Regions from separate parts of the Homo sapiens genome. Here all the other regions are linked to region 4. The links come from fine-mapping of genetic effects on gene expression. A gene starts in region 4. Each other region holds a variant in brackets. All regions are shown on one strand. Distances are from middle to middle.

Region 1 (8,000 bases), 110 kb after region 4:
TTTTTTTTTTTTTTTTTTTTGAGACAGAGTCTCTCTCTGTTGCCCAGGCTGGAGTGCAATGGTGTGATCTTGGCTCATTGCAACTTCCACCTCCCGGATTCAAGCAATTCTCCTGCCTCAGCCTCCCAAGTAGCTGGGACTACAGGCGCACGCCACCATGCTTAGCTAATTTTTGTATTTTTAGTAGAGACGGGGTTTCACCATGTTGGCCAGGATGATCTCCATCTCTTGACCTTGTGATTCGCCCACCTCAGCCTCCCAGAGTTTTGGGATTACAGGCATGAGCCATTGCACCCGGTCATAATCTAGTCTTAAAAGAGCAATGCCAGCACTACTAATTACAGTGACTAGAAATTGTTTTATGATTTGTTTTGCAGGTGATTTTGCCCTTGAGCTTCTTACTCAGGGTACTTTTTTTTTTTTTTTTGAGATGGAGTTTCGCTCTTGTTGCCCAGGCTGGATGGCGTGTGATGGCGGGATCTTGGCTCACTGCAATCTTCGCCTCCTGGGTTCTAGCAATTCTCCTGCCTCAGCTTCCCGAGTAGCTGAGATTACAGGCATGCAGCACCACGCCCAGCTACTTTTTTATATTTTTGGTAGAGATGGGGTTTCACTATGTTGGCCAGGCTGATCTCGAACTCCTGACCTCAGGCAATCCACCTGCCCCGGCCTCCCAAAGTGCTGGGATTACAGCATGAGCCATCGCACCGGGCCCCTCACTCAGAGGATTTTAAGTCACACCGTGGTGTTTAGAGCTGCTCAGGGTCCTCTCAGTGGTCATGCTGTGAGCTCCATGCAGGTTCCCGCCATTGTTTCATTTTGCTTTTGACTTCTAGGCATTGCATTTCCGATCTCATTTAATTCTGTGTCCTAAATATATAAAATATTTGTGTGGTTCTAATATCACATCTATAAAAAGGTATATTCAAAGAAGCCTGCCTTCTCCACGGTGCCCCTTCCTCCCCATAGGTCACATGTTTAAATTTAGGGGGTGGTTATTTGATAGAAGCAAACCCACGTGACTTGTGTGTTGCCCTTCCCCGGCCTAGTGGAAGTGCGCCAAGCCCACGCGTGTAACAGCCCCGCGCCCAGCCCGCGGTCCCCCAGGCGGTGGCTGTGGCAGCGGCCTGTCCCTTGCTCTGTGCTCTGCAGCACGCCCTTGGCCGCCATTTTCCCGGGAGGAGGGTCCAGCACCCACAGCATTTCTTATTTTCTTTTTATTTATTTATTTATTTATTTATTTATTTATTTATTTATTTATTATTTTTTGAGACGGAGTCTCGCTCTGTCGCCCAGGCTGGAGTGCAGTGGCGCAGTGTCGGCTCACTGCAAGCTCCGCCTCCCGGGCTCACGCCATTCTCCTGCCTCAGCCTCTGAAGTAGCTGGGACTACAGGTGCCCGCCACCATGCCCAGCTAATTTTTTTGTATTTTTCAGTAGAGACGGGGTTTCACCGTTTTAGGATGGTCTGGATCTCCCGACCTTGTGATCCGCCCGCCTTGGCCTCCTGCATTTCTTATTTTCACACGTGTGACTTTGGGGTGGATTCTCATGGTGGATCCCGGGATGGGGGGAGCTGGGTGGGGGCGCTGGTTTCTCACGGGGCCGTGCCCGCCTTGTGCAGGTGGTCACGGGCTCGGGCCGCCAGGAGGCCCAGAAGACGGACGCGGAGTACCGCAAGCTCTTCGACCTGGCGCTGCAGGGCCTGCAGCTGTTGTCGCAGTGGAGCGCGCACGTGATGGAAGTGGTAGGCCCCGTCCCCGACCCCAGCCCCGCTCCAAAGCTGCCTCGGGCACTTTATTCACATTAACTTTTGGTCTTTGGGCTTTTTATCTTTGGCCCTAGAAAGACGAGAATATCTATCAGTAGATATGTTTCCAAGGTGATTTTAAGTACATCTCATTTATGTGTGTAATAAATGAAGGGCCTCCTTTTTAAAAAAAATCTTGATAGAATTAAATTTGTACCATTGTGATTTTCTTTAAGTCGTTCTTTTTTTGAGATAGTCTCACCCTGTCGCTTAGGCTGGAGTGCGGTGGTGCAAACATAAGTCCCTACAGCCTTGACTCCCCACCCCAAGCGATCCTTCTGCCTCAGCCTCCCAAGTTGCTGGGACCACAGGTGTGCACCACGGCTCCCGGCTAATTTTTTTTTTTTTTTTTTTTTTTTGAGACGGAGTTTCGCTCTTGTTGCCCAGGCTGGAGTGCAATGGCGTGATCTCGGCTCACTGCAACCTCTGCCTCCTGGGTTCAAGCGATTCTCCTGCCTCAGCCTCCTGAGTTAGCTGGGATTACAGGCGCCCACCACCACTTCTGGCTAATTTTTTTGTGTTTTTAGTAGAGATGGTATTTCACCATGTTGGCCACACTGGTCTTGAACTCCTGACCTCAGGTGAACTACCCGCCTCAGTCTCCCAAAGTGCTAGGATTACAGGCTTGAGCCACCGCACCTGGCCTAGTTTTTTGTTTTTTGGTTTTTTTTGTACAGACAGTCTCGCCGTGTGGGCCAGGCTGGTCTCAAACTCCTGGCCTCAAGCCATCTGCCTGCCTGGGCCTTCCAAAGTGCTGGGATTACAGGCGTGAGCCACTGTACCTGGCCAAGTCTCATTTTTTCATTTAAATTTTATTTTGCTTTAAATATTTACTTGTATTGATGCATAATAGGGGTACATAGTTTCAGGATACATGTGATAATTTAATACAGTCATACAGTTTGCAAAGATCTAATTGGTGTGCTTGGGATGTCCATCGCCATAAATATTTGTCCTTATGCCAGAAAAATTCGAGTTCTTCCCTATCTATTCTGAAATGTACCATAAATTATTTTAATTAATAGTCACCCTAACTGATCTATCTAACACTGTCTTATTTCTAATATCAGACTGTACATTTGTACCCATTAATGTCGCTTCACGCCCTGCATTTTTAAGATAACATTTTCTCTTTGGAGCTCCAGCCATCAATGTCTTTTGTTGAACATTAGTAAATTATTTCTGGTGCCATATAAAGATTTGGATACCTGTAAGCAATGAAAGATTTTCCCTTTTGTGATTTATTTTGATCACATAAAAATTATCAAATTGGAAGAGTACATGGTCATTTGAAAGGCAAAATCTTTATTTACTTACTTATTATTTTATTTTTTGTAGAGATGAGGCCTCACTATATTGCTCAGGCTGATCTTGAACTCTTGGGCTCAAGTGATCCTCCTGCCTCAACCTCCCAAGTGCTGGGGTCATAGGCATGAGCCACTGTGCCTGGCCCAGAATCCTTTTTAAAATGATGATGAAATGCCAGAGTCTTAGATACTCAGCACTCACTATCCAGGCCATTTTGCCGGGTAGATTTTTTAAACGAGAGGTTACAGGGCCAGGGTCTTTTGCCCATCTGTGGAGATGGACGGTGTGTGCGCCCTCATGTGTGACTTTCAGAATGCAGCAAAGGTTTGAAGGCTGGCCTGGCTTTGGCCACCATCGTGTGAGTCAGACCAGAAGCCAGGCGTTTTGCATGCAATATGGAACACCTCTGCTCTTTCGGCCACCACAGTATTCCTGGAAGCTTGTGCACCCCACCGACAAGTACTCCAACAAGGACTGCCCCGACAGCGCTGAAGAGTACGAGCGTGCCACGCGCTACAACTACACCAGCGAGGAGAAGTTTGCCCTAGTGGAGGTGAGGATGCTCGGCCGCTCGCTCTTCCTCATGTCGCTCTAGCTTCACACCATCTTCTCTGTCAAAAGCAAAAACATGAACAAAACTGCCTGTTTACTCATTGCTTCTGTGTGGGCACCCCTTTCCATCTGGCAGAGTAGTCAGAGTAGAACGCATTAGAGAAACAGTGGTTGTCGGTCCTGGGTCTGCACTGAAGCTCCCTGGGTGCGAATCTGGACTCCTGGACCTGCGTCTGGATGGAGAGCAGTGTCGGGTGCGGGGAAGGGAGGTGAAAGAGATGTGGCCCCTGCTGAGAGAGAAGAGCTGTCTTGCTCTCCTGTGAGGCAGGCGCTGCACTCCCCTC[G/A]TGAGCCTTTCCATGGGCAGCTCTTCATTCCAGCATCAACTGGTATCTTTTCTTTCATAGCTGTGCTTTTCCTGTGCTGTTTGAGAAATCTTTGCATACTCTCAGGTCGTGAAGGTATTCTGCATTGCTTTCTGGATACTTCACTCTGCTTTCACACTGAGATGCGAAATTCACCTGAAATTCATTTTTGAAACAATTCCGTCCAACCCTCACGCTGCCACCTTTGTAGCTGGTCACGTGACAATGCATGTGTGGCTGTGTTTCTGCTCTGCTCTAACCCAGTGTCAGTTGCTGTCGGTATCCCAGCACCACTCTGTAGCTTTGTAGTCATCTACCGTGTATGAGAAAGCACGTCTTTCTGTCTCCTAGACTTCCTTGGCTATTCTTCCCCACTGTAGTTTCATATTCATTTTAGAATCAGCTTTTCCCATCCCACAGTGAGGATTTTAATCAGGATATGAACAATCCTATGGATCATGACAGGAGAATTGACAGAAGTCTCATACAGTTGGCCCTCAGTGTTCTTGGGTTCCACCTCCATGAACCAACCTTGGGTCAAAAATGTTCAGAAAGAAAAAATAACACTACAACAGTGAAAAGTAATAAAAATGTTAAAAACCACTGTTTTGGCCTCAGCCTCCTGGACTCAAGCAATCCTCCCACCTCAGCCTCCCCATTAGCTGAAACTATAGGTGCATGCCACCACACCTGGCTAATTTTTATATTTTTGGTAGAGATGGGGTGTCACCAAGTTGCCCGGGTTCGTCTCAAACTCCTGAGCTCAAGCAATCCACCCGCCTCAGCCTCCGAAAGTGCTGGGATTGCAGGTGTGAGCCACTGCGCCCAGCCAAAATTTTCTGATTTTTTGACATAAGGTTTTTCATAGTAAATTCTCATCTTATTTTGGTAGAAGCTTTTTTTTCACATAACCATACAGTTCACCCATTTGAAGTGTAAAAGTCAATGCTTTCAGCACATTCACAGAGTTGTACAGTCACAATCAAATTTAGAACAAATATAAATGCCAGCCCATTATCAGCCACCCTTCATTCTTCCCTCCCTCAACCGTATGCAGCCACCACTCTGCTTTCTGACCCTGTAGATTTGCCTGCTCTGGGCATTTCATATGAGTAGATCATACCATATGTGGCCCTTTGTGACTGGCTTTCACAAAGCATAATTTTCACTTAGCATAATTTTCCTTTTATTTTTCTTAAGATGGAGCCTTGCTCTGTCACCCAGGCTAGAGGGCAGTGGCGTGATCTCAGCTTACTGCAACTTCTCCCTCCCGGGTTCAAGCAATTCTTGTGCCTCAGTCTCCAGAGTAGCTGGGATTACAGGCACCCACCACCACGCCCGGCTAATTTTTGTATTTATAGTAGAGACAAGGTTTCACCATGTTGGCCGGGCTGGTCTCAAACTCCTGACCTCAGGTAATCCGCCTGCCTTGGGCTTCCAAAGTGCCAGGATTACAGGCGTGAGCTACCGTGCCAGGCCACTTAGCATAATTTTCAAGATTCACACAGGTATCACTGTTTTGTTCTGTTTATTGCTGAATAATATTGCATTACATGGATATGTTACATTGTATTTATCCATCCATCAGATGATAGACATTTGGGTTATTTCTACCTTTTCACTACTATGAAGTTGCTGAGAACTTCTTTTTCTTGTTTTTTTTTTTTTTTTTTTTTTTGGAGACAAGGTCTCACTCTGTCACCCAACTGGAGTGCAGTGGCAGGATTATGGCTTATTGCAGCCTCAATCTTCTGGGCTCAGACAATCCTCCCTCCCCAGCCTCCCAAGTAGCTAGGACCACAGGCACAAACCACCATGCCTGACTAATTTTTAAATTTTTTGTAGAGATGGGGTCTCACTGTGTTGCCTAGTCTGGTCTTGAACTCCTGAGCTCAAGTGATCCTCCTGCTTTGACTTCCCAAAGCACTGGGATTAGAGGTGAGCCACCATGCCCAGCCTCTATGAGCTTTCATGTGCGGGTTTTTGTGTAGATGCTGGTTTTCATTTCTTTTGATTGTATAGCTAGAAATGCAATTACTGGATCATAACAGCACATTTAGCTTTTGAGGAACTACCAGATAGTGGCAGCACCATTTCTCCTTCTTACCAGCAGTAAGTGAGGGCTCCAGTTTCCCCACATCCACACCAAACTTGTTATTGTATGTCTTTTTGATTCTAGCTATCCTAGTGGGTGTGAGGTGGTATCTCATTTCATTGCGCTTTTGATTTGCGGTTTTCTAACAACTAAGGATGTTAAACGTCTTCTTATGTGCTTGTTGGCCATTTGTGTGCATTATTTGGAGAAATGTCTCTTCAGATCCTTTGCCCATTTTTAATTAGGTTATCTTTTTTATTATTGAGTTGTAACAGTTCCTTATACATTCTAAATATCAGTTCCTTACAGCCATAGGATTTTCAGTATCTTCTCCCATTCTATGATTGTCCTTTTAGTTTCTTAATGGAGTCTTTTGAGACACAAAGTGTTTGAATTTTGATTATGTTTGATTTATCTGTTTTTCTTTCGTTGCTTATGCTTTTGGTGTCATATATAAGAAATCATTGTGTAACCCAGGTCATGATGATTTACTCCTGTGTTTCCTTCTAAAAGTCTTTTTTTTTTTTCTTTTTTGAGACAGAGTCTTGCTCTGTCACCCAGGCTGGAGTGCAGTGGCATGATCTCAGCTCACTGCAACTTCTGCCTCCCAGGTTCAAGCAATTCTCCTGCTTCAGCCTCCCAAGTAGCTGGGATTACAGGTGTGCGCCACCACACCCAGCTAATTTTTGCATTTTTAGTAGAGACAGGGTTTCACCATGTTGGCCAGGCTGGTCCTGAACCCCTCACCTCAGGTGATCTACCCGCCTTTGCCTCCCAAAGTGGTAGGATTACAGGCATGAGCCGCCACGCCCAGCCTCTTCTAAAAGTTTTATAGTTTTAGCTCCTAACTTAAACCTAATTTAAATATATGATCCATTTTGAGTGGATTTTTATACAGCGTTTGACAAGGTTGTGTGAGGGGCCCTCCAGACCACCCTCCATCCCCCTGACTGGCTGGGAGGACTCACAGGGCTTGGTAGTTGTTGCACTGAAGGTTATGACTCCTTGCAGCCAAAAGACAGAGTCAGATCAGCAAAGGGAAAAGGCACAGGAGTGGAGTCCAGAGAAGACAGGTGTAAACTTCCAGCTGTGCCTGCTAGTGGAATTGCACGGGACGTGCTTATTTCTCCCAGCGATGATGTGTGACAGCACACACAAATTGTGGCTCACCAGGGCAGCTCCCCAGAGCCTTGGGGTCCTGGGTTTTTACTGGGGGCCAGTCACGTGGCTGACCTTGGCTACTCAGACTCTAGGTCCTCAAAACACACACAGGAGGTCACTATTAGTCACCTTGTTAGCAGAGACTGATCAGACTGGTACAGCAGTAGGCCCGGGGCCCCAGGCACACAAAAACATAATCTCTAGGCAGGACACTCCCAAGGTTCAGAGCTGGTTCCTGGGATGACTTCAGCCAGTCCTGAAGATGGGCCTTTCTTGGGGATGTGCGGAGTTTCATTCTCCCCAGCCTGCTGAGTTAACCCTTTCCTGCACAAGGGTCCACCTTGATTCTCTCGCATGTGCAGATACAGTTGTCAGTACTATTTGTTGAAAAGATGATCTTTCCCCATCAAATTGTTTTGGTACCCTGTTGAAAATCAATTGTAAGTTAACTTCTGGACTCTTAATCCTATCCCATTGACCTCTGTCTATCCTATGACAGTATTTTTTCATAATCTCTTAATCTGTCTATAAACTGCTAATGTCCCCTTTTTCATTCTTAATGCTGGTAACTCGTGCTTCTTTTTTTTTTTTTTTTTTTTTGAGACAGAGTCTCGCGTGTTGCCCAGGCTAGAGTGCAGTGGCACAATCTCAGCTTACTGCAACCTTCACCTCCCGGGTTCAAGCTACTTCTGGCCAATTTTTGTATTTTTAGT
Region 2 (8,000 bases), 26 kb after region 4:
TTTAAAAAGTAATCCCCTGCCATTTCTTTTCTTTTATTATTTTTATAAATTGACATAATAATTGTACATATTCATGGGGTACATAGTGATGTTTTGATACATATATAGTGATCAGATCAGGATAATTAGCACTTCCATCATCTCAAACATTTACTACTTCTTTATGTTGGGGACATTCAGTATCCTCTTCTTTGCTATGTGCAACTCTATAATACATTATTAACTATAGTCATCCCATAGTGATACAGAGCACTAGAACTTATTCCTTCCAGCTAGCTATTTGTATCCTTTAACAAATATCTTCCTCTTTCTCCCTTCCCCCTACAAAATCCAGCATCTGGTATCCTGTTCTACTTTTTACTAATACGAGATCAACATTTTTTAGCTACCAGATGAGTGAGAACATGCAGTGTTTAACTTTCTGTTCCTGGCTTATTTCACTTAATGTCCACCATTTCCATCAGTGTTGCTGCAAACAACAGGATTCACTCTTTTATCTTCAAGATATATACATATATATATATATATATCTCACAATTTTTTTACCCATTCATCTGTTGTTGGGCACCTAGGTTGATTCCATGTCTTGGCTGTGTGAATAGTGCTGCAGTAAACATGGGGGTGCGGATGTCTCTTTGATATCCTGATTTCCTTTCCTTTGGATAAATGCCCACCAGTGGGATTGCTATATCATATAGTAGTTCTATTTGTAGTTTTTTGAGGAACCGCCAAACTGTTCTCCATGGTGTCTGTACTAGTTTATGTTCCCACCAACATTGTGTAAGAGTTTCCTTTTCTCCACATCCTCACCAGCATTTATTTTTTGTCTTCGTGATAAATAACCATCCTGACTGGGGTGAAATGATACCTCATTGTGGTTTTGATTTGCATTTTCCCTAATAATTAGTGATGCTGAGCATTTTTTCATCTATTTCTTGGCCATTTGTATTACTTCTTTGGAGAAATGTCTGTTCAGATCATTTGCCTTTTTTTTTTTTTTTTCCTGAGACAGAGTTTTACTCCCATCACCCAGGCTGGAGTGCAGTGGTGCAATCTGGGCTCACTGCAAGCTCTGCCTCCCTGGCTCAAGTGATTCTCCTGCTTCAGCCTCCTGAGCAGCTGGGATTATAGGCACCCGCCACCACACCCGGCTGATTTTTTGTGTTTTTAGTAGAGACGAGGTTTCACCATGTTGGCCAGGCTGATCTCGAACTCCTGACCTCAAGTGATCTGCCCGCCTTGGCCTCCCAGAGTGCTGGGATTACAGGCGTGAGCCACCGTGCCTGGCCTCATTCATTGAATTCTTTCACTGTAAAATTTGTTTGTTAAACATCTGTTTCTGTTGAATTTCTCATTCAAATCATTCTTTTCCTGATTTTGTTGAGTGTTTATTTGTACTGTCTTGTATCTCACCGAGTTCTCTTGTATCTCACCGAGTTTCCTTAAGATTTTAATTCTGAATTATTTTTCCGGCATTTCCTATATCATTGTAGTCTCTTGCTAGAGAATTATTGGTTTTCTTGGGAGGTGTCATGTTTCTTTGCTTTTTCATGTTTGATGTATTTCTACATTGATTTCTACACATCTGGTGGGAAAGTCACCTTTTCCAATTTTATGGAGTACGTTTTGTAAAGAGTTATTCATATGAATGGGTCTTGGAGTGTGGGTTCAGTGGGATGCATTCACCTTGGTTCTGGACAAATGCAGTAGTATAGTCTCCATGTACTTTCTTCAGTTGTAATCCACTTTAGTGATGTTTGCAAGTGCCTCAGTGGCCTACAGTGAGGGGGTTTGTGGCAACAGTGGCACAGTTGGCTGGGCGTGGTGGCTCACGCCTATAATCCCAGCACTTTCTTTTTTGAGACAGTCTTGCTCTATTACCTAGGCTGGAGTGCAGTGGCATGATCTCGGCTCACTGCAAACTCTGCCTCCTGGGTTCAAGTCATTCTCTTGCCTCAGTCTCTCAAGTAGATGGGATTACAGGCATGTGCCACCACGCCTGGCTAATTTTTGTATTTTTAGTAGCGATCGGGTTTTACCATGTTGGTGAGGCTGATCTCAAACTCCTAGCCTCAAGCAATCCACCCGCCTCGGCCTCCCAAAGTATTGGGATTGCAGGCGTGAGCCATCACGCCCAGCCAATCCCAGCACTTTCGGAGGCCAAGGCAGGTGGATTACTTGAGGCCAGGAGTTTGAGACCAGCCTGGCCAACATGGTGAAACCCTGTCTCTACCCAAAATATAAAAATTAGCTAGATGTGGTGGCGCATGCCTATAATCCCAGCTGCTTGGGAGGCTGAGGCACAAGAATCACTGGAACCCGGAAGGCGGAGGTTTGCAGTGAGCCAAGATTATACCACTGTACTCCAACCTGGGCAACAAAGCAAGACTCTGTCCCAAAACAAAAAACAAACAGTAGCACAGCTTTGCTGGGATGGGCTTGCTGGACTGTTTCTCAGATTAGGGGTACATGCATGTACACAGTGGTTTGGCCAAGGTGGGGTCTGGCTCAGGGTTTGGGACCACAGGCTGTTACTCTGGCCAGGAACATGAGCATGTGGTTGCTTGGCCAGCCTATAGGTTTATTTGCCTGCCAGCAATGGCCCAAGGGGCTGTTTCTCAGGCCTAGGATGTAGGCACAAAACTGGTTTTCTGGCCAGGGGCTCCATGAGAACAGCCCTCAGGGTCATTTCTCAAGCCTTGGACATGAGCACAGGCTTCTTTGCTCGCCTGGGAGTATGTTTGCTGGGGGTAACCTATAAGGCTGTTTCTTAGGCCCAGGATGTGGGTACAAGGCTGCTTTGCTAGCCTGGGTGCATGTCTGCCTGCACAGTTCAAGGGGCTCTTTCTCAGTCCTGGGACATGGTCACATGGCTTGTTGGCCGTCCTAGGTATGTATCTGCCAGTGGCAGCCCATGAGGCTGCTTCTGAGGCCCAGCATGTGGGTGGAAGGCTGCTTGGCTGGCATGAGGGTGTGATTACTGGGGGTGGTCTTCAAGGCTCTTTCTCAGGTTTGGGATATGGGTGCCAGCTGGCTCAGAACATGCCCACCAAGGGCAGACCACAGGGCTGTTTGGCAGGCCCAGTATGCAGGCCTGTGGCCGCTCTGTTGGCCTGTGACTCCCAGGCGCTGCCTATGGGGCTTCTTCTCCAACCAAAGATGCCGTGCAAGGCCGCTCAAGAAGCCTAGGTACATGCCTGCCAGGGCAGCCTCTGAAACTGTTTCTCAGACCCTGAATGCTGACCCAGGGCCACTGGGTAGGCCACGGGCCTGTCTGCAAGGGGTTGATGCTGTGGGGCTGTTTCTCAGTTCCTGGGCAAAGGTCTGTAACTGCTTCACCAGCCTGGAGGCATGTCAGCTGGTAGGAAGCTCAGGGGTCTGTTCCCACCCTCTAGAGATGGCACAGCAATTTGGCCAGCTCAAAGATGGGTTTGGTCTGTTGGGGCTGCCAGACTGTTCCTCTGTCTGAAAGTGCAGTGGCAGGGGCTGGTTTTTCTGCTGTGCAGGACCAGAATCACCAGTCGATCCTGGGCCCAGGCTCCACATAGCTGGGGTTGTGGTGTTCAGCCATCCCTGTGGCCTTGGTGGAATGAGGATGGAGCCCCAGTGGCTGGGGTGCAGGAGAGGTGCAGCAGCTACTGGCCCAGAGGAGGGCGTGCTCCAGAGGTGGCTCTGGTCTGAAGATGGTGCCATGCTGCAACAGCTTGGCTCAAAGGGGTGGGTGGGGAAGGCACACCTTGTGCCCCTAACCCGGGGCAAGGCAGCTGCGTGAATTCCCAGCAGCTCTCCAAACTGGGCTCAGAGCTCGTGGGAACTGTGGAATCCTCCTGTAGTAATGACTGTAGGTGTTTGTGGGGGCTGGTGGGTTTCTTCTGCTTACCCTTACCCTACAATGGGAAGTCCTTCTTGACTCCAGACCAGCCTGTTCTGCGAAGCTGCAGAGGCTGGAAGCCTCCACACTGCCCTCCTGGGCCTCCAGTCACCAACACTGTGTCACATTCCCCCTCTGCACTCCAGCACTCGCCCTTCAACTCCAGTCGGATCTTTTTTTTTTGAGACGGAGTCTTTCCCTGTCGCCCAGGCTGGAGTGCAGCGGCGCGATCTCGGCTCACTGCGAACTTCGCCTCCTGGGTTCTCTCCTGCCTCAGCCTCCCCAGCAGCTGGGACTACAGGCGCACACCACCGTGCCCGGCTAATTTTTTTGTATTTTTAGTAGAGACGGGGTTTTACCATACTAGCCAGTATGGTCTCGATCCCCTGACCTCATGATCCGCCCGCCTCGGCCTCCTGAAGTGTTGGGATTACAGGTGTGAGTCACCACCCCCAGCCTCCAGTCGGATCTTAACTGTTGATTCGTTGCTTTGGTCCTCTCTTGCTGTTGGGAGAGGAACACCAGA[C/T]GTCTCCAGGCAGCCACCTTGCTGGCGACTGGAGTGCAGTGGCATGATCTCGGCTCACTGCAACTTCTGCCTCACAGGTTCAAGTGATTTCTCATGCCTCAGCTTCCCAAGTAGCTGGGACTATAGATGTGAGCCACTACGCCCGGCTAATTTTTTGTGTTTTTAGTAGAGATGGGGTTTCACCATGTTGGCCAAGCTGGTCTTGAACTCCTGACCTCAGCTGATCCACCCGCCTCTTAAAGTGCTGGGATTACAAGCGTGAGCCACCACAACCAGCCCTTCTGGCATTTCTTAATGCAATGCAGCGTTTAGCCCTTGAGGGCCGTGAACCATGGCTGATAAGAATTTCTTATGAGCAGTTCAGACTCGATCATAAATTTCAAGAAAATGATGCAATTTAATATATTCAAAGTTTTATGCTGTAATCCCAGCACTTTGGGAGGCTGAGGCAGGCAGATCACGAGGTCAGGAGATCGATACCATCCTGGTCAACGTGGTAAAACCCCATCTCTACTAAAAATACAAAAATTAGCTGGGCATGATGGCATGGGCCTGTAATTCCCCACTACTCAGGAGGCTGAGGCAAGATAATCGCTTCAACCAGGGAGTCAGAGATTGCAGTGAGCCGAGATCATGCCACTGCACTCCAGCCTGGTGACAGAGTGAGACTCCATGTCAAAAAAAAAAGTTTTATCAACTGACTAAAAAGGCTTGGAAGATAAAGATGTGACCTTATTTATACATCTCAATCATCTCAATGTTATGTTAATTATATTATTGTATCTACTTGAAATAAGTAGATGCAATACTTATTTTCACTTTGTGGAATATTTCCTTCTTATGTAGTGAGCTTCCCAGGGCCACTGTCAGAAGTGTTTTTTCCAATGAGACTGCGACTCCTATCAGGGTTACCATAGTGTTATGCAGTATTGTAATAAATTTCAAGTGTGCTGATTAGGATCTTACTCTTTTTTTTTTTTTTTTTTTGAGTCAGGTTTCACTCCTATTGCCCAAACTGGACTGGAGTGCAGTGGCGTGATCTCAGCGCATTGCAACCTTCACCTGCCAGTGCTCACGCAGTTCTCGTGCCTCAGCCTCCCAAGTAGCTTGGGACCACAGGCACATTCCACTGCACTCAGCTAATTTTTTTGTAGAGCTGAGGTTTCACCATGTTGCCCAGGCTGGTCTCAAACTCCTGAGCTTAAGTGATCCACCCGCCTCAGCCTCCCAAAGTGCTGGGATTACAGGCATGAGCCACTGCACCCGGACATGATATTATTTAATATTTCTTGGGCCAGGCACAGTGGCTCACGCCTGTAATCCCAGCACTTTGGGAGGCTGAGGCGGGTGGATCACTTAAGCTCAGGAGTTTGAGACCAGCCTGACCAACATGGTGAAACCCCGTCTGTACTAAAAAACAAATATATAAAATTAGCCGGGCGTGGTGGCACATGCCTGTAATCCCAGCTACTTGGGAGGCTGAGGCAGGAGAATTGTTTGAACCCGGGAGGCGGAGGTTGCAGTGAGCCAAGATGGCGCCATTGCGCTCCAGCCTGGGCAACAAGAGCAAAACTCCATCTCAAAAAATATATATTATTTTGTTACTATATATAAATATATATATTTAATATTTACATATATTTAATATTTATATATAAATATATAGATTTTGTTACTTAATATATTGTTAATGTTAATATGATTAAACAGAATGTTACTTAATATGATTAAACAGAACTTAGTTCACCTTACATATTTCTTTATGTTTCAGATGCAGAAAGAAAAAGTTTATACACTCTCTTTCTGGAATCTGTACAGTCCCGTCTTCGACATGGAGAAGATTCCACTCCACAGGTTCTTACTGAGCAACAGGCAACCAAGGAGAACCTGATGAAGATGCAGTCCATTGCTGAAAGCCATCTTGAACTGGATGATGTTCATGATCCACTGCTTGCCATTAACTTTGCAAGGTGAGACACACCTGCAAGGTTATCAGTAATTGAAATGGCATCATTTGTGCAATGTTTGCTAACTGTTTATTTCTGGCAGGTAGGGCTAAAAACAAAAACTCTTGTAGGCTATCCTTTCTTTTTTCTTTTTCCTTTTTTTTTTTTGTTTGTTTGAGATGGAGCCTCAGTCTGTCACCCAGGCTGGAGTGTAGTGGTGTGATCTTGGCTGACTGCTGCAACCTCTGCCTCCCAGGTTAAGCAATTTTCCTACCTCAGCCTCCCAGCTACCTGGGACTAGAGGCATGTGCCACCATGCCCCGCTAATTTTTGTATTTTTTGTAGAGACGGGGTTTCCTCCTGTTGGCCAGGCTTGCCTCGAACTCCTGACCTCAGGTGATCTGCCCACCTCGGCCTCCCAAAGTGCTGGGATTACAGGTGTGAGCCACCATGCCATGCCTATCCTTTATAACAAGCAGAATACAAGATGTTGTGCTCACCTACTTCAGGTGTATAGTTTGGATTCCATGTCGTTTGTGGAAGTCTGCAGACTTGGCCCTGCCACCATGTGGTACAACTTTTGTCTGTGCCCTCGGGCCCCTGGAAATGTCATCATTTACCCAGAAGATGCTGAAACTCTGGGCCATGAGTGGGCCCTGGACACCCATTGAGTCAGGGTCCCCACTGGCATATAATATGTCCTGGGCTTAAGCTGCTTTTAGGCACTTAGTCCATTAGAGTAAGTCATTAATACCCACACAGTTCCCGGTTGTCTAATGGCCAGCATTTGCTGTGTCCAGCCCTAATCACTAGAAAGACCAGCTCTAGTACCTGACCCTAAGTCAGTGGCAACTTCAAGAGACTGGTTCACTCAAAGGATATTTTTGGGAGAAAGATTTTTCTCTTTCTGTAATAGTTGGTAACTTCAAGACTAAAGGTAAAAATGGAACTTCAGGGTTTTGATTTAAGAGAGTTCTGTTGACAGCAGCTCATAAAAAGAAGACTCACATTTTTATCTTGAAGGATGTATTTGGAGCAGAGTGACTTTCACGAGAAGTTTGCTGGTGGTGATGTATGTGTGGATAGATCATCGGAATCTGTGACATGCCAGACTTTTGAATTAACGCTGAGATCCTGCCTCTATCCTCATATTGACAAGCAGTATCTAGATTGCTGTGGAAATCTCATGCAAACTCTAAAAAAAGATTACAGGTAAAAGAGTAATTTAATTTTGGAAGTAGTAAATAGTTGATTGTACTTGAAGAACAGTTGAGATTATTTTAAAACCTATTTCAATTTTTATTAGAGTAGGAAATGGATATACAGTAAACAATTTTCTAAGAGAAATCAATTGACCATCAATATTTTCTTAACTATGTTTTGAAACTTAATTCTTTATTTCTGAGAATCTTTCCCAAAAGAAATACAGAAAAAGCTTGTAGAAAAATTACAAAGTTTGTTATCAGAATGAAAAACACTAAATTACTTAGTGATAGATGACTAGTTTTTTAAACTATGCATATCCATAAATATGGCATATACATACCCACATATGAACTTTGTAAAGTTCATAAAAATTATGGCAATTAGGCCGAGCACGGTGGCTCACACCTGTAATCCCAGCACTTTGGGAGGCTGAGGTGGGAGGATCACGAGA
Region 3 (8,000 bases), 50 kb after region 4:
TTCCAGCTGGGCGCGGTGGCTCACACCTGTAATCTCAGCACTTTGGGAGGCAGAGGCAGGCGAATCACGAGGTCAGGAGTTCGAGACCAGCCTGACCAACATGGTGAAACCCTGTCTCTACTAAAAATACAAAAGTTAGCCGGGCATGGTGGCGCATGCCTGTGATCCCAGCTACTTAGGAGGCTGAGGCAGGGGAATCGCTTGAAGCCGGGAGGTGGAGGTTGCAGTGAGCTGAGATCACACCGCTACACTCCAGCCTGGGCGACAGAGCGAGACTCAATCTCAAAAATAAAGAGTTTCCAATCACATCCTGAGCATCGTCTCTAGAGCACATTTTCTTGGCAGTGCCATATAGTTTATCCTTGCTCGATAGTCATTTTCTTATTTTAGCATCATTTGCCGTATGGGGAGGCTAAAACATTTCAAAACCATTAATTCTGTCTCCTTTTTTTTTTAAATCTTTCTCTCAGTTAATGCTCTCCTCTCACATTTTACTATACCCAGCAGGAAGAAACCAGGCAGCATCTTGAATACTTTGTTTGGAAAATCTCATTAGCTAGGTCACCCGTTTATTATGTATATTCTGTCCTATCCATGTAACGTCAGGTAACAGCAGGGCTAAACTTTCTGCTGCTACTTAGTGAAAGTCTTCCTTCAATTTCCAATAACAACATTCTTCTCACTTTCTTTTAAGCCCTCTTCAGCAATGTCCTCAAAGTCCAAAGTCTAAGAACAGTGTGTTCAAAGCACTTTAGTGTCATCAACACTCTCCTCAAACCCTGGTCCCAGAGCCATGCCCACCTGTTAGGTTTTGCTACAGCAGCATCCTCTCTCTGTACCAAAATCTGTATCAGTCCAAGAGCAGAGCCATTAATATACATGTGTGTGTGTGACACACATATACATACATATATATGTGTGTATATATATATTACCCATACACCCATACCTGTGGATAATCGTGGACTTGCTGCAGGGCTTTGCTCTTACACAGTTAATTGTGTAAACTGATTCGTCAGTTTCCATAGGGCTGCCTGTTGTCTGCATCCGACGCTGGAGCCTACTGTCCACAGGAGGTTTGGGAGGGACCTAAACCTGCGTCAGTTCTTGCTGCTTCTGGCCTTGGTGGTGTGGAGGTGCTGCAGAAGCTAGGGCCTCTCATCATGAAGATGAGCCAGATGCCTCCTTCGGGAGCCACAGGATCCAGAGAGTCAATGAAAGTAAAACTTCAGGACTGTCTGGATTTATTACGCCAGGGAGGAAGTTGAGCCCTGGAGACTGTCAGGTCGTACGACTGCAATTCTTCTCAGATTCACTCTCTTCCTCATTGTTCTTGTTCTGTAAATGACTAAGAGAGACCAGAGACCAGACCTCCCCACTTCCAATCACTGGTTTTGTTGTAGATGAACTGCCTCCTTTGCTGTCCGGTACCTAATGTGGACCAGACGGTGCTCAAGACCCTATCACTAGTACAACCTCAGTGTGGAATGTTAAATATGCCTTGCCTGGAAGAAAAAGACCAACTTGACTAATCAGATCATCATAACTATGCATGAAGTCTTCCACAGAAAGATGATGAAATTTTGTTACACTTCCCTAACCTTTGTCTAAATAAGCATTCCCAAACATCTACACTTTGGAACACTGACTTCTGTTCTTTGAGATGGGTGCTTCCCAGGTGGCCCATCCTCAAACTTTTTGCTTGAATAAACTCTCTAAACTAGATTCTGTTCCTTTTGATTATTTTAGGTTGACAAGAAGAAGGCAGTAGTGGCAGTCCTGGCCATGGTGGTGTTAACAGTGTAAGCTGTCAGACCCACAACACGTGTGAGCCACAACACAGTGGCAGCTCCCTGCCTCTCCCCAAGCCTCCGCCAGCGCCTCCCTCATGGTCTTGCAGAAACACAGGAAGAACTCTAGTAAACCTGGGTCAGCTTAGCCAGCTCCACATGCTGCAAAGCCACCACATCAATTCATGGCATCATTAAGTTAAGAAAGAGTAATTTGGCTGGGCATGGTGGCTCACACCTGTAATCCCAGCACTTTGGGAGGCCGAGGCAGGCGGATCACCTGAGGTCATGAGTTCGAGACCAGCCTGGCCAACATGGTGAAACCCCGTCTCTACTAATATAGAAAATTAGCCGGGTGTGGTGGTGTGCGCCTGTAATCCCAGCTACTCAAGAGGCTGAGGCAGTAGAATCACTTGAGCCTGGGAGGCAGAGGTTGCAGTGAGCTGACATCGCGCCACTGCACTCCAGCCTGGTGAGCGCGCGAGACTCCGTCTCAAAAAAAAAAAAAGTAATTTATTATAAGGAAGTCCTTATACTGTTGCCTGTGGCTGCTGTAACACATTACCATAAACCTGGTGGCTTAAAACAACAGATATTCATTCTCTTGAAGTTCTGGAGGACAGAAGGCCAAAATTCAAGGGAGCAATAGGGCCATGGCCGCGCCATTCTTTGCCTCCCCAGTTTCTGGGGGCTGCCAGCATTCTATGACTGTGGCTGTGTGGCTGCTTCACTCCCATCCCTGCCTCTGTGTTCACACTGCCTCTTTCTGGGTCTGTTCTCTGCGTGTCTCTTGTAAGCACACTGCTTATTGGATTTAGGGCCCCTTCAGATAATCTAAGATGATCCCATCTCAAGAACTTAGATCTGCTAAGACTCTTTTTCTTCACATAAGGTAACTGTCTTAGTCTGTTAAGGCTGCTATAACAAAGCAGCATAGACTGGGTGGCTCTAAACAGGAGAAATTTATTACAGTTCTGGAAGCTGAGCGCCCAAGATCATGGCACCACAGAGTTGGTGTCTGGTGAGGGAATGGAGGAATTTTAATCCAAAAATGCATGCTGTGTTTCCTGCTCGGGGAGAGCTGTCTCCCTGTTCTGCTGGTATTTGTTTTTCTACCTGTTACTTCTGCTTTCTCACCTTTCCTTGCTGTGCTTTTCCTGTAGTGGTTGGAAGGTGGATGCTCACAGATCCCAAATGCACGTGACCAGTTCTTGGCTCCAGCCTTGGCCTGGGTTCCCCAGAAATACAACCTGAGACAAAGCCGTAGGTGCCTCTACTCTGAGATGGGGTGCAGTGCCCGTAGTGGGAGTCAGAGAGTGCCCTAGCAGGAGGAGGAGAGAGATGGAAGAGGAGGGGAAGAGGAGGGGGAGGAGTGGGAGAAGGAGGGGGAGTGCTGATGGATATGGGGCCATCTCAGTAAGATGGCATTGCTAAGTGTGCCTGCCCCACCTCTCGGGATGTCCCTAGAAGCCATGTGGACTGCATCAGGAAGGAAAGAGAGGAATCTGCCTGTGAGTGCCTCTCATTAGTCAAAGGTGCAGGGAATGTTAACTCTGTGCACAGCTGCATGGTTCATGTGTGATCTCAGAGGACTCTGATGCCTCCTGGTGACAGGGAAGCCCCAGGGCAGGAGGTGAGAGATCCAGGCGGGCACCAGGGAGACGTGTGGTTGGGTTCTTGGTTGGAGTCCACATGTTTTCACTGCAGAAGAAATAAAAGTCCTGAAGTTAGGAGGCTGTGATGTGAGTGAGAAAGTTCCAACTCTAAGCTCCCAACCAAGGTTCCCACAGCGAGTCAACTTGGGTCAGGTGCCCACTCCAGCTTGAACAAGGTGTGGCAAGAAATAAGAGATCAGGTTGTACAAATATAGCAGCTGAGATCATGCTATTGTGGAATGGAGGGATCAGTTAAGAAGGAATTAAAGTTCCTCCTGGTTGGCCAGGCACATGACTTGCACCTGTAATCCCAGCACTTTGGGAGGCCAGGTGGGAGGATCCCTGGAGGCCAGGAGTTCAAGGCCAACCTGGACAACAAAGTGAGACCCTGTCTCTAGATAAATAAATAAATCATAAATTTAAAAAGACAGACCAAGACAAGTATGATTTAAGGGGATATGTATGGGTGCCAAGTTAACAGGGGGTGGGTTGTGGTGGTCTTTTTATTGTGTCAACCTAGTGAGGCTGTCCCAGCTGTT[C/G]TATCAAACACACACCTCGTGTTGCTAGAAGGTATTTACTGGATGTGATTAAATTTCATATCAGTTGACTTTAAGTAAAGGAGATGATCCCAGGCAGTCCAGCTGGGCCGGATTCAATGGGTTAGAGGACACTGAGGCAGAGCTCCAGCTTCCTGAGACAAGGCGGAATGGTAGCCCCAAAGCTGTCTGCTTCCTAATCCCTGGGCCGTGTGACTATGTTAGTTTACATGGCAAGAGGAGAATTAAAATTGCAGATGGAATTAGGGTTGCTAGTCCACTGACTTGAGATAGAGACGTTACCCTGCATTATCTGGGGATGTCGTCACACGGCTCCTAAAGGTGGAAGAGGGGACAGAAGCACAGTGTCAGAGAAAGGTGTGAGGCCAGGGCAGCCTGAGGGCAGAGCCAGCTGAGGGCTTTGAGGACAGAAAAAGTCAAGGGAAGGAGCAGGATCCGGGAATGTGAGTGGCCTCTACACCAATATGGAGAAATCCTGTCTGTACTAAAAACACAAAAACTAGCTGGGCCTGGTGGTGCATGCCTGAATCGCTTGAACCAGGGAATCGGAGGTTGCAGTGAGCTGAGATCACGCCACTGCACTCCAGCCTGGCAACAGAACAAGACTCCGTCTCAAAAAACAAACAAACAACAAACAACAAAAAAACAGATTTTTTTTTTTTTTGAGACGGAGTCTCGCTCTGTCGTCCAGGCTGGAGTGCAGTCACGCGATCTCGGCTCACTGCAAGCTCTGCCTCCTAGGTTCACGCCATTCTCCTGCCTCAGCCTCCCGAGTAGCTGGGACTACAGGCACCCACCACCACGCCCGGCTAATTTTTTTTGTATTTTCTAGTAGAGACGGGGTTTCACTGTGTTAGCCAGGATGGTCTCGATCTCCTGACCTCGTGATACGCCCGCCTTGGCCTCCCAAAGTGCTGGGATTACAGGCTTCAGCCACCGCAACCGGCCAAAAAAACCAGATATTAATTATCTTCAAGTTCTGGGGGCTGGAAGGCCAAAATTCAAGGCAGCAATAGGGCCTTGCCTCCACCATTCTTTACCTGCTCAGTTTCGGGGGCTGCCAGCATTCTATGACTTGTGGCTGTGTGGCTGCTTCACTCCCATCTCTGCCTCTGTGTTCACACTGCCTCTTTTTCTGGGTCTGCTCTCAGTGTCTCATGTAAGCACACTGCTTATTGGATTTAGGGCCCCTTCAGATAATCTAAGATGATCCCATCTCAAGAACTTAGATCCGCTAAGACTCTTTCTTCATATAAGGTACTGTCTTAGTCCGTCAGGACTCCTATAACAAAGCACCATAGACTGGGTGGCTATAAACAGGAGAAATGTATTACTCATAGTTCTGGAAGCTGAGTGCCCAACATCAAGGCACCACAGAGTGGGTGTCTGGTGAGGTCCCACTGTCTGGTTCTCAGTGGCTGTTGTCTGGCTGTGTCTTCACATGGCAGAAAGGACAAGGCTGTTCTCTGGGGTGTCTTTTTTTTTTTTTTTTTTTTTTTTTTTTGAGATGGAGTCTCGCTCTGTCACCCAGGCTGGAGTGTGGTGGCGCAATCTCGGCTCACTGCAAACTCTGCCTCCCGGGTTCATGCCATTCTCCCACCTCAGCTTCCCGAGTAGCTGGGACTACAGGCACCCGCCACCACGCCCGGCTAATTTTTTGTATTTTTAGTAGAGACGGGGTTTCACCGTGTTAGCCAGGATGGTCTCCATCTCCTGACCTCATGATCCACCCACCTCAGCCTCCCAAAGTGCTGGGATTACAGGCGTGAGCCACCGCGCCTGGCCCCCTCTGGGGTGTCTTTTATAAGGGCACAAATCCCACTCATGAGGACTCTACTTTTGTGACCTGTCAGCTCCCAAAGGCCCCACCTCCTAATGCCATCATCTTGGTGATGGGGTTTCAACATAGTAGTAACAGCCACAGGTTCCAGGGATTTGACACAGGTATTTGCTGGGGGATGCTTTTTCAGTTTACCAGAGCCAAAAATTTGTAGTAATTTGTTGTGACCGTGACAGAAACCTAAAAACAGGACAGTAACTTTCTTTTCTTTTTTTTTTTTTTTGAGATGGAGTTTTGCTCTTGTTGCCCAGGCTGGAGTGCACAATGGAGTGATCTTGGCTCACCACAACCTCCGCCTCCCCCATTCAAGTGATTCTCCTGCCTCAGCCTCCCAAGTAGCTGGAATTGCAGGCATGTTCCACCACGCCCGGTTAATTTCTTGTATTTTTAGTAGAGATGGGGTTTCTCCATGTTGGTCAGGCTGGTCTTGAACTCCTGACCTCAGGTGGTCCGCCTGCCTCAGCCTCCCAAAGTGCTGGGATTACAGGCGTGAGCCACCGCCCCCAGCCACAGGACAGTAACTTTCTGATGGCCTGCCCTCCAGATTTCATCCTAGCTGAGCCAGCCCCCATAGTGCATAAGCCAATTCCTTGCAGTAAATCTCCTAATATGTATCTCCTACTGATTCTGCTTTTCTGGTTGAACCCTGACTGACATAATATGCTTGTGTCAATATCAGCCTGACAAAGATGCAGAATATTTCCAAGTCCCCAGAAGTTTCCTACACGCCTCTTTTCAGTCCATCCTATTCCCTGCAGACCACCTCACCCAAGCAAACGATTTAACGATTTCTGACTTCCTTTTCTTTCTTTTTTTTTTTTTGAGACAGAGTCTCATTCTGTTGCCCAGGTTGGAGTGCGGTGGCGCAATCTCAGCTCACTGCAGCCTCCACCTCCTGGGTTCAAGTGATTCTTCTGCCTCAGCCCCCTGAGTAGCTAGGATTACAGGCACCCACCACCACACCCGGCTAATTTTTTGTATTTTTAGTAGAGATGGGGTTTCGCCATGTTGGTCAGGCTGGTCTCGAACTCCTGACCTCGAGTGATCCACCCGCCTTGGCCTCCCAAAGTGCTGGGATTACAGGGGTGAACCACCACGCCCGGCCAATTTCTGACTTCTGTCACCAGTGAGTAGTGGTGCTATCTGTCATGGAAGTTCATATAGATGAAATCCCACAATATGTACATGGTCTTTTGTGTGTGGAAAATTACAGAATAGTTTTGAGGTTCATCTATTTTATAATACTACTTGTATATCCATTTTCTTCCCCTTTTAAAAACTTTTTTCATCATATTGTTTTCCATAGTGGCACCATTTTACATGCCCACTAAGAGTACACAGAGTTCCAATTTCATCATATCCTTGCCAATACTTGTTATTTTGTTTATTTTTATTTTATTATTATTATTATTTTTTTTTTTTTTTTGAGACAGAGTCTTGCTCTGTCGCCCAGGCTGGAGTGCAGTGGCGTGACCTCGGCTCACTGCAAGCTCTGCCTCCCGGGTTCACACCATTCTCCTGTCTCAGCCTCCTGAGTAGCTGGGACTACAGGCACTCGCCACCACACCCAGCTAATTTTTTTGTATTTTTGATAGAGACAAGGTTTCACCGTGTTAGCCAGGATGGTCTCGATCTCCTGACCTTGTGATCCGCCCATCTCGGCCTTCCAAAGTGCTGGAATTACAGGCATGAGCCACCGTGCCCGGCCTATTATTTCTTTTTTTTGAGATGGAGTCTCACTCTGTCGCCCAGGCTGGAGTGCAGTGGCAGGATCTTGGCTCACTGCAACCTCCGCCTCCTGGGTTCAAGCGATTCTCCTGCCTCAGCCTCCCAAGTAGCTGTTTGTTGATAGTAGGCATCCTAATGAGTGTGAAATAGAAAAACACAAGAACAAATCCTTTTGATTTGTTCTTTCCTTTTTATTGCTGAGTAATATTCCATTATATGAACAGTATTTGTTTATCCATTCTCCTATTTGTGCACTTTGGGTTGTTTCTAGTTTTTTGCGATTATAAATAAGCTGGTAAGAATATTCATTATACAGCCAGGTGTGGTGGCTCATGCCTGTAATCCTAGCACTTTGGGAGGCCGAGGCAGGCGGATCACCTGAGGTCGGGAGTTTGAGACCAGCCTGATCAACATGGAGAAACCCCATCTC
Region 4 (8,000 bases):
TGGGATTATGATATCCCCCTAGCACCTCTGGCCAGGTGAGGTTATGATGTCCCCCCAGCACCTCTGGCCAGGTTGGGTTATGAAATCCCCCCAGCACCTCTGGCCAGGTGACATTTATGAAGTCACCCCCAGCACCTCTGGCCAGGTGGGGTTATGAAGTTCCCCCCGCCCCCCAGCACCTCTGGCAGGTGGGGTTATGATGTCCCCCCAGCATCTCTGGCCAGGTGGGATTATGATACCCCCCAGCACCTCTGGCCAGGTGAAGTTATGATGTCCCCCCAGCACCTCTGGCCAGGTGGGGTTATGAAGTCCCCCAGGACCTCTGGCCAGGTGGGGTTATGAAGTCCCCCCCAGCACCTCTGGCCAGGTGGGGTTATGAAATCCCCTCCAGCACCTCTGGCCAGGTGACATTTATGAAGTCACCCCTAGCACCTCTGTCCGGGTAGGGTTATGAAATTCCCCCTGCCCCCAGCACCTCCGGCCAGCTGGGGTTATGATGGCCCCACAGCACCTCTGGCCAGGTGGGGTTATGATGTCCCCCCAGCATCTCTGGCCAGGTGGGATTATGATACCCCCCAGCACCTCTGGCCAGGTGAGGTTATGATGTCCCCCAGCACCTCTGGCCAGGTGGGGTTATGAAGTCCTCCCGGCACCTCTGGCCAGGTGTGGTTATGAAGTCCCCCGCAGCACCTCTGGCCAGGTGGGGTTATGAAATCCCCCCCAGCACCTCTGGCCAGGTGACAGTTATGAAGTCACCCCCAGCACCTCTGGCCAGGTGGGGTTATGAAGTTCCCCCCGCCCCCCAGCACCTCCGGCCAAGTGGGGTTATGATGGCCCCAGAGCACCTCTGGCCAGGTGGGATTATGATGTCCCCCAGCACCTCTGGCCAGGTGGGGTTATGATGTCCCCCCTGGCACCTCTGGCCAGGTGGGGTTATGATGTCCCCCAGCACCTCTGGCCAGGTGGGGTTATGAAGTCCCACCGGCACCTCTGGCCAAGTGTGGTTATGACGTCCCCCCCAGCACCTCTGGCCAGGTGGGGATATAATACCCACCCCCAGCACCTCTGGCCAGGTGAGGTTATGATGTCCCCCCGGCACCTCTGGCCAGGTGTGGTTATGATGTCCCCCCGGTACCTCTGGCCAGGTGTGGTTATGAAGTCCCCCCGGCACCTCTGGCCAGGTGGGGTTATGAAGTCCCACCGGCACCTCTGGCCAGGTGTGGTTATGATGCCCCCCCGGCACCTCTGGCCAGGTGTGGTTATGAAGTCCTCCCGGCACCTCTGGCCAGGTGGGGTTATGAAGTCCCCCCGGCACCTCTGGCCAGGTGGGGTTATGAAATCCCCCCCAGCACCTCTCGCCAGGTGACATTTTGAAGTCACCCCCAGCACCTCTGGCCAGGTGGGGTTAAGAAGTTCCCCCCGCCGCCCAGCACCTCTGGCCAGGTGGGGTTATGATGGCCCACCAGGACCTCCTGCCAGCTGGGGTTATGATGGCCCCACAGCACCTCTGTCGAGGTAGGATTATGATACCCCCCAGCACCTCTGGCCAGGTGGGGTTATAATACCCCCCCACAGCACCTCTGGCCAGGTGAGGTTATGATGTCCCCCCAGCACCTCTGGCCAGGTGTGGTTATGAAGTCCTCCTGGCACCTCTGGCCAGGTGTGGTTATGAAGTCCCCCCAGCACCTCTGGCCAGGTGGGGTTATGAAATCTCCCCCAGCACCTATGGCCAGCTGTGGTTATGAAATCCCCCCCAGCACCTCTGGCCAGGTGACATTTATGAAGTCACCACCAGCACCTCTGGCCAGGTGGGGTTATGAAGTTCCCCCCGCCCCCCAGCACCTCCGGCCAGGTGGGGTTATGATGTCCCCCCAGCATCTCTGGCCAGGTGGGATTATGATATCCCCCTAGCACCTCTGGCCAGGTGAGGTTAAGATGTCCCCCCAGCACCTCTGGCCAGGTTGGGTTATGAAATCCCCCCAGCACCTCTGGCCAGGTGACATTTATGAAGTCACCCCCAGCACCTCTGGCCGGGTGGGGTTATGAAGTTCCCCCCGCTCCCCAGCACCTCCGGCCAGCTGGGGTTATGATGGCCCCACAGCACCTCTGGCCAAGTGGGGTTATGATGTCCCCCCAGCATCTCTGGCCAGGTGGGATTATGATACCCCCCAGCACCTCTGGCCAGGTGAGGTTATGATGTCCCCCCAGCACCTCTGGCCAGGTGGGGTTATGAAATCCCCCCCAGCACCTCTGGCCAGGTGACATTTATGAAGTCACCCCCAGCACCTCTGGCCAGGTGGGGTTAAGAAGTTCCCCCCGCCCCCCAGCACCTCCGGCCAGCTGGGGTTATGATGGCCCCACAACACCTCTGGCCAGGTGGGGTTATGATGTCCCCCCAGCATCTCTGGCCAGGTCAGATTATGATACCCCCCAGCACCTCTGGCCAGGTGAGGTTATGATGTCCCCCCAGCACCCCTGGTCAGGTGGGGTTATGAAATCCCCCCCAGCACCTCTGGCCAGGTGACATTTATGAAGTCACCCCCAGCACCTCTGGCCAGGTGGGGTTACGAAGTTCCCCCCGCCCCCCAGCACCTCCGGCCAGGTGGGGTTATGATGGCCCCACAGCACCTCTGGCCAGGTGGGGTTATGATGGCCCCCCAGCATCTCTGGCCAGGTGGGATTATGATACCCCCTAGCACCTCTGGCCAGGTGAGGTTATGATGTCCCCCCAGCACCTCTGGCCAGGTGGGGTTATGAAGTTCCCCCCGCCCCCCGGCACCTCCGGCCAGCTGGGGTTATGATGTCCCCCCAGAATCTCTGGCCAGGTGGGATTATGATATCCCCCTAGCACCTCTGGCCAGGTGAGGTTAAGATGTCCCCCCAGCACCTCTGGCCAGGTTGGGTTATGATGGCCCCACAGCACCTCTGGCCAGGTGGGATTATGATACCCCCTAGCACCTCTGAGCAGGTGAGGTTATGATGTCCCCCCAGCACCTCTGTCCAGGTGTGGTTATGAAGTCCTCCCGGCACCTCTGGCTAGGTGTGGTTATGAAGTCCCCCCAGCACCTCTGGCTAGGTGGGGTTATGAAATCTCCCCCACCACCTCTGGCCAGGTGACATTTATGAAGTTCCCCCCCTCAGCACCTCTGGCCAGGTGGGGTCATGAAGTCCCCCAAGCCGCCCCTGAGGAACAGGCGAGGCAAGGGCCAGCAGGCACTACTAGCGGGTCGGGACAGCTGCTTCGCTGATGCTGGTTGTGTAGCATGGATGTGTGTAGCGTGACTGTGTTGTGTGGATGGGGCACGGAAATCCGCAGAGACCATCACTGGAGGGAGAAGCTGCAGGGCCGGGAGGGTTCAGCAGGTAAGCAGTTCAGGGTTCCTGGAAAGGCGGGTCCCAATGCATTTGCTGACCGGGCACCTAACGGGCTGCTCTCAAAATCACTGACTGTCACCGAGGCCGGCCAGAGACCCTTATGTATCTGATTCACGATGACACCAGCTAACTCTGAGTACAGTAGAAAACGTACCGTCGGGCAACCAGAAAATGCGCACTCCAGTCCCCACCACGGGACAGCGCCAGGCAGTACCCTCCACAGCCGGAGCTCGAACTGTCGCGAGAATAGCGGTCGGCTTGGAAGTCGCCCGGCGCGGGAGCGCGAACTCTCGCGAGAATGCCGCCAGCTCCGGAGGCGACTGCGGCAGGAGCCCGAGCTCTCGCGCGACAGGCACCAATTCGTTAGACGCGCGCTGCAGGAGCGCGGAACATGGCGCGGCACGGGCCACCGTGGAGTCGGTTGGACGCGCAGCAGGAGCGCGACGTGCGGGAGCTCGTCCGGGGTGTCGCCGGCCTCCAGGACGAGGCAGACCCCAACTTCCAGCTCGCCCTAAACTTCGCCTGGTCCAACTTCAGGTGTGGGGCACGGCGCGCGGGCGGGTTCCCGGCCACAGCCCGGAGCCCGCGCGTGGGTCCCGCACAGCCCGGGGTCGGGGCGCGCTGGGGCAGGGCATGGGGCGGAGGCGGGCGCGGCCTCAGGGAGCCTTCGCAGGCCCTGCCACCGCCTGCTCCCCGCCGGCCAGCGCTCTCGGCGCGGTGCCCTGCGCACCACAGGGCGTGTTACCCGGGACGCGTCCTGATCGTCACGGGGAAAGCGTGAACTGGGTTTCTTGCCGGCCGGCGCGCGCGCCTGCAACCCCAGCGCTCTGGGAGGCCCAGGCGGGACTCCAGGCCAGCTTGGGCAACGTAGCAACTCCATGTTTATAATTTTTTTTTTTTTTAAATTAAAGAGATTGTATTCTCACTGACTCCTGCTCCCTGGTCAGCCCAGTGTAAGATCTCTCACCCTGCTCTCCTTTTTCCAAAACGCGTGTCATGACACTGATTTAACCTGTCATTACTGTCTCCTCCACTTCCACTCCAGCTAGAATGCTGCATCTCTGCACAGCTCCTGGCACGTAGCACGCTGAGTCACCTAATACAATTTCTAATGCAGTTTCTCTTGTAACTAATTTTTAAAGACTTACAGAATTTAGATATTTACGTAAAGTGAGATCTCCTATTTTTCTTTATGGGAGATGTAAATTAATACTTTTAGAGTCATTACCCATAATGAAATTATTACTAAAAAAATGTTAATGTTAATATTCTACCTGTTTAATTTCAGTAAAAATCTTCTTGAATAATGAACAGTTTTTCAAAATCCGTAATCTTAGTTACCTTAATGATCATAGCCATAAAGTGTCTAGTTGGCTTATAATAGGAATACGGGGCTTTCAGATTCTTTTAAACCATGCCAAGTTTCTGAAGTAATAAACTGAATTCTTAAGTGTAACTTATAAAAATAAACAATGTGTGAAATAGGTTATACAATACAGAAACTTAAATGCTGAAATCCAAGTTATTTTTCTACTAATATTTCTAAATGACAGTAGGCAGATTGTCATCATTTTAGAGCTGGGAGAGACGTTGGAGGTTACTATTTTCATTCACAGATTTCAGGAACTAAATTATAATAGGTAAAGTGGTGTTCCATTCACCCATTTACTGGCCTAGAATCATGTGTTTTTCAGTAGTGTAATTTTATTTAAGTACAGATTGCTCGCTTTGATACTAAAAAATGGAAAACATTTTTTGCATAGGCTATGCTATGTACATATACATTAGTTGCATAGGCTGTGCTGTAATTTTATGATGCTTTAAACCATCAGAAAAATGAATAGTTCATGTTTACATTCTTGAAAATTGTGGACTGGGCGCGGTGGCTCACGCCTGTAATCCCAGCACTTTAGGAGGCCGAGGTGGGTGGATCACGAGGTCAGGAGATCGAGACTATCCTGGCTAACACGGTGAAACCCGGTCTCTACTAAAAGTACAAAAAATTAGCCGGGCGTGGTGGCAGGCGCCTGTAGTCCCAGCTACTTGGGAGGCTGAGGCAGGAGAATGGCGCGAACCCAGGAGGCGGAGCTTGCACTGAGCAAGCTCACTTTTCTCTAACTGAAAAGTAGCATCTCCTTCTATTATGAATGAAGGCAGCAAACCATAGCAGTATTAGCCTACCTATGACTTTATCACCAGTAGAAATCGCATACTGTTTTCACATCAGAGTTGTAGATATTTGTAAATGTTGTTTACTGTTACTTTAATGGTAGTTAATTGGACCTACTGCTAAATCTTGTTATTTAATACTTTCATAAATAACATTTCTTGCCATATCTTAAACTTCTTTAAATATTTGACAACTGTATCTCAGTATAATGGGATTCCTTTGTATTTATTTTTTGGCTTTAAAAATGTTATTCAGAGAAGGGGTCCTTAGGCTTCACCGGGCCTCACTATGGCATAAAAAGGTTGGGACCACCTGATGTAGAATGTGTTCAGCTGGACTTAGGTACAGGGGCTTATGGGAAGACAGAGGAGCCAGAGGACAAGGTTGGGAGGGTCAGGAAGAACCTGTGTGCTGGAGAAAGGATGCTTGCACAGTCTCGGACACGGTGATTATTTGCCTGCCTGATGGTGGAGGTAACGGAGGACAAGGTACACTCCATTCTGGAAATGTGTAGCTGAGTACAGAGCATATGGGGGATATGGAGGGCCATGAGATGAGTTCACTTACCTGTGTGACAGAGTTGGCATAAGAATTGCATTTTGTCTTTAATAGATTTCATCGTTTCTTGGATGTCAACAGCCACAAAATAGAAAAAACAATCGAAGGGTAAGTCAGTGTGTATATATACGCATCCAGAAATATATGTATTTTCTTATAGATCTTTTTAAGATAGCTTTATAATCTTTTCTTATATTTTAGAATTTATGAAAAATTTGTCATTCATTCTGATCTAAGCAAAGCTGCTAGTTGGAAGAGATTAACGGAGGAATTTCTAAATGCACCACTTCCCAGTATAAAGGAAATAAAGGTATGCCTTCAATTATGAGATCTCCACTGTGTATTTTACTGTTTCCTATCTGATTATCGTCAATTTGTTTCAGTTACTGTTTAAACATTCTATTTTAGTATTATCTACTGGCTAACGGGATCTCTTGGAAATTTACTTAAATATTGCCATCAAACCAGATATGCCTCAGTTTGTGATGAAAGAAAGAGCTTGTTTTTAATCATTTTTTCACCTCAGTCCTACTAAGGAAAGAGAGATCAGAGATTGATACAAATAGTAGCATTGTTTGGGTATCTCAAAACTTTCAAATGGTTTCTCAGCACTTGGCAGTGACTGTCTGTAGATGCTTACTAGATGCCTGGTATACTTTCATATTGTTTGGGGGATTCCCCAAGACCACCTTTTGGCATAATGATTTGCTCAAAGGATTCACAGAACTTAAAAAAAAAAAGCTGTTATCCTCACTGTTAATAGTTTATTACAGTGAAAGGATACAGATTAAAATCACCAAAGGGAAAAGGTGCTTAGAGCAAAGTCTAGGAGAAGCTAGGCACGCATGTCCAAATGTTCCTTCCTAGTGGAGTCACCTGGGGATGCAGTTAATTCTCTCAGTAACAGTATATGACAACATGTGCAAAGTATTACCCTCCACTCCCCCCAGGGCCACTCGGCTGAGCCTTGGTGACCAGCATTTTTATTGGGGGTGGGTCACATAAGCAAGCAGAGCCCACATGGCTGACCTTAGCTGCTGAGTCTGTAGCCCCCTAGAGGTCAAACCAAGGATGGCAAGCGTATGGAAACAGCTGTGGGTTCCCTGAACACGGTGGGACCACATTCCCTAGCTCTGCTGTGACACATCTTGTGCCTACATAGTTCTTTCCCTTTCTCCTGCCTGAGGAAGCTCACGTTTTAATATTAAACTCAGGCACTGTCTCCACACATGCTATGTATTTCAATTCTTTATAGTTCCTTTCTTGTCTCCCCCTTTAAAAGGCACATTTTACAGGCATAGGGCTCTGTGTCTGATTTGTTCCCGGACACCTAGAGCACAGTGGACAGTGCATGTTTGTTGAGGGAATCAGTAAGGCTGTGCAGTCTTGTCTGCTTCACTATCCCCTCTGTGTCCACAGCCCCCACCCACTTACACAAGGTGGGATTGGTTATCCTTTTCTCTTGCTGTGTGGCATCTTGGATGTGTTTGTTATGGCAGAGGTCCCCAACCCCCACATGGTGGACGAGTACCAATATGTGCCTGCTAGGAACAGGGCTCCATGGCAGGAGGTGCAGTGGGGTGAGTGAGGATGACTGCCTGAGCTCCACCTCCTGTCAGATCAGCGGTGGCATTAGATTCTCATAGGAGAGCAAACCCCATTGTGAACTGCACATTTGAGGGATCTAGGTTGCATGCTCCTTATGACAATCTAATGCCTAATGATCTGAGGTGGAACAGTTTCATCCTTGAAACCAACCCCCACCCAACAGTCCATGGAAAAATTGTCTTCCACAAAACCAGTCCCTGGTGCCAAAACGGTTGGGGATTGCTGTGTGGTGTAGCAATAACTTCACACTTTTTTTCTTTTTTTTTTTTAAGACTGAGTGTCACTTTGT

Evidence for each region.
Region 1: its variant is fine-mapped to the expression of TUBGCP5 in tibial nerve (GTEx, PIP above 0.99).
Region 2: its variant is fine-mapped to the expression of TUBGCP5 in whole blood (TOPMed, PIP above 0.99).
Region 3: its variant is fine-mapped to the expression of TUBGCP5 in whole blood (TOPMed, PIP above 0.99).

What each region holds. Positions count from the first base shown.
Region 1 is chr15:22,921,652-22,929,651 of GRCh38, reverse strand. It overlaps CYFIP1 (cytoplasmic FMR1 interacting protein 1), which reads left to right. Exons shown (of 31, transcript NM_014608.6): 12 at 1,624-1,746; 13 at 3,545-3,670. Among named protein-coding and RNA genes, the nearest start is that of CYFIP1, 55 kb to the left of the region's middle. The variant G/A (reference allele first, on the strand shown) is at 4,014.
Region 2 is chr15:23,009,500-23,017,499 of GRCh38, reverse strand. It overlaps TUBGCP5 (tubulin gamma complex component 5), which reads left to right. Exons shown (of 23, transcript NM_052903.6): 14 at 6,169-6,367; 15 at 7,367-7,555. Among named protein-coding and RNA genes, the nearest start is that of TUBGCP5, 26 kb to the left of the region's middle. RefSeq lists an enhancer at 3,527-4,437. The variant C/T (reference allele first, on the strand shown) is at 4,398.
Region 3 is chr15:22,985,402-22,993,401 of GRCh38, reverse strand. It overlaps a transcript of TUBGCP5 not described here. Among named protein-coding and RNA genes, the nearest start is that of CYFIP1, 9.0 kb to the right of the region's middle. The variant C/G (reference allele first, on the strand shown) is at 3,985.
Region 4 is chr15:23,035,310-23,043,309 of GRCh38, reverse strand. TUBGCP5 (tubulin gamma complex component 5) reads left to right here and starts at 3,741. Exons shown (of 23, transcript NM_052903.6): 1 at 3,741-3,912; 2 at 6,158-6,211; 3 at 6,305-6,413. The coding sequence starts at 3,767.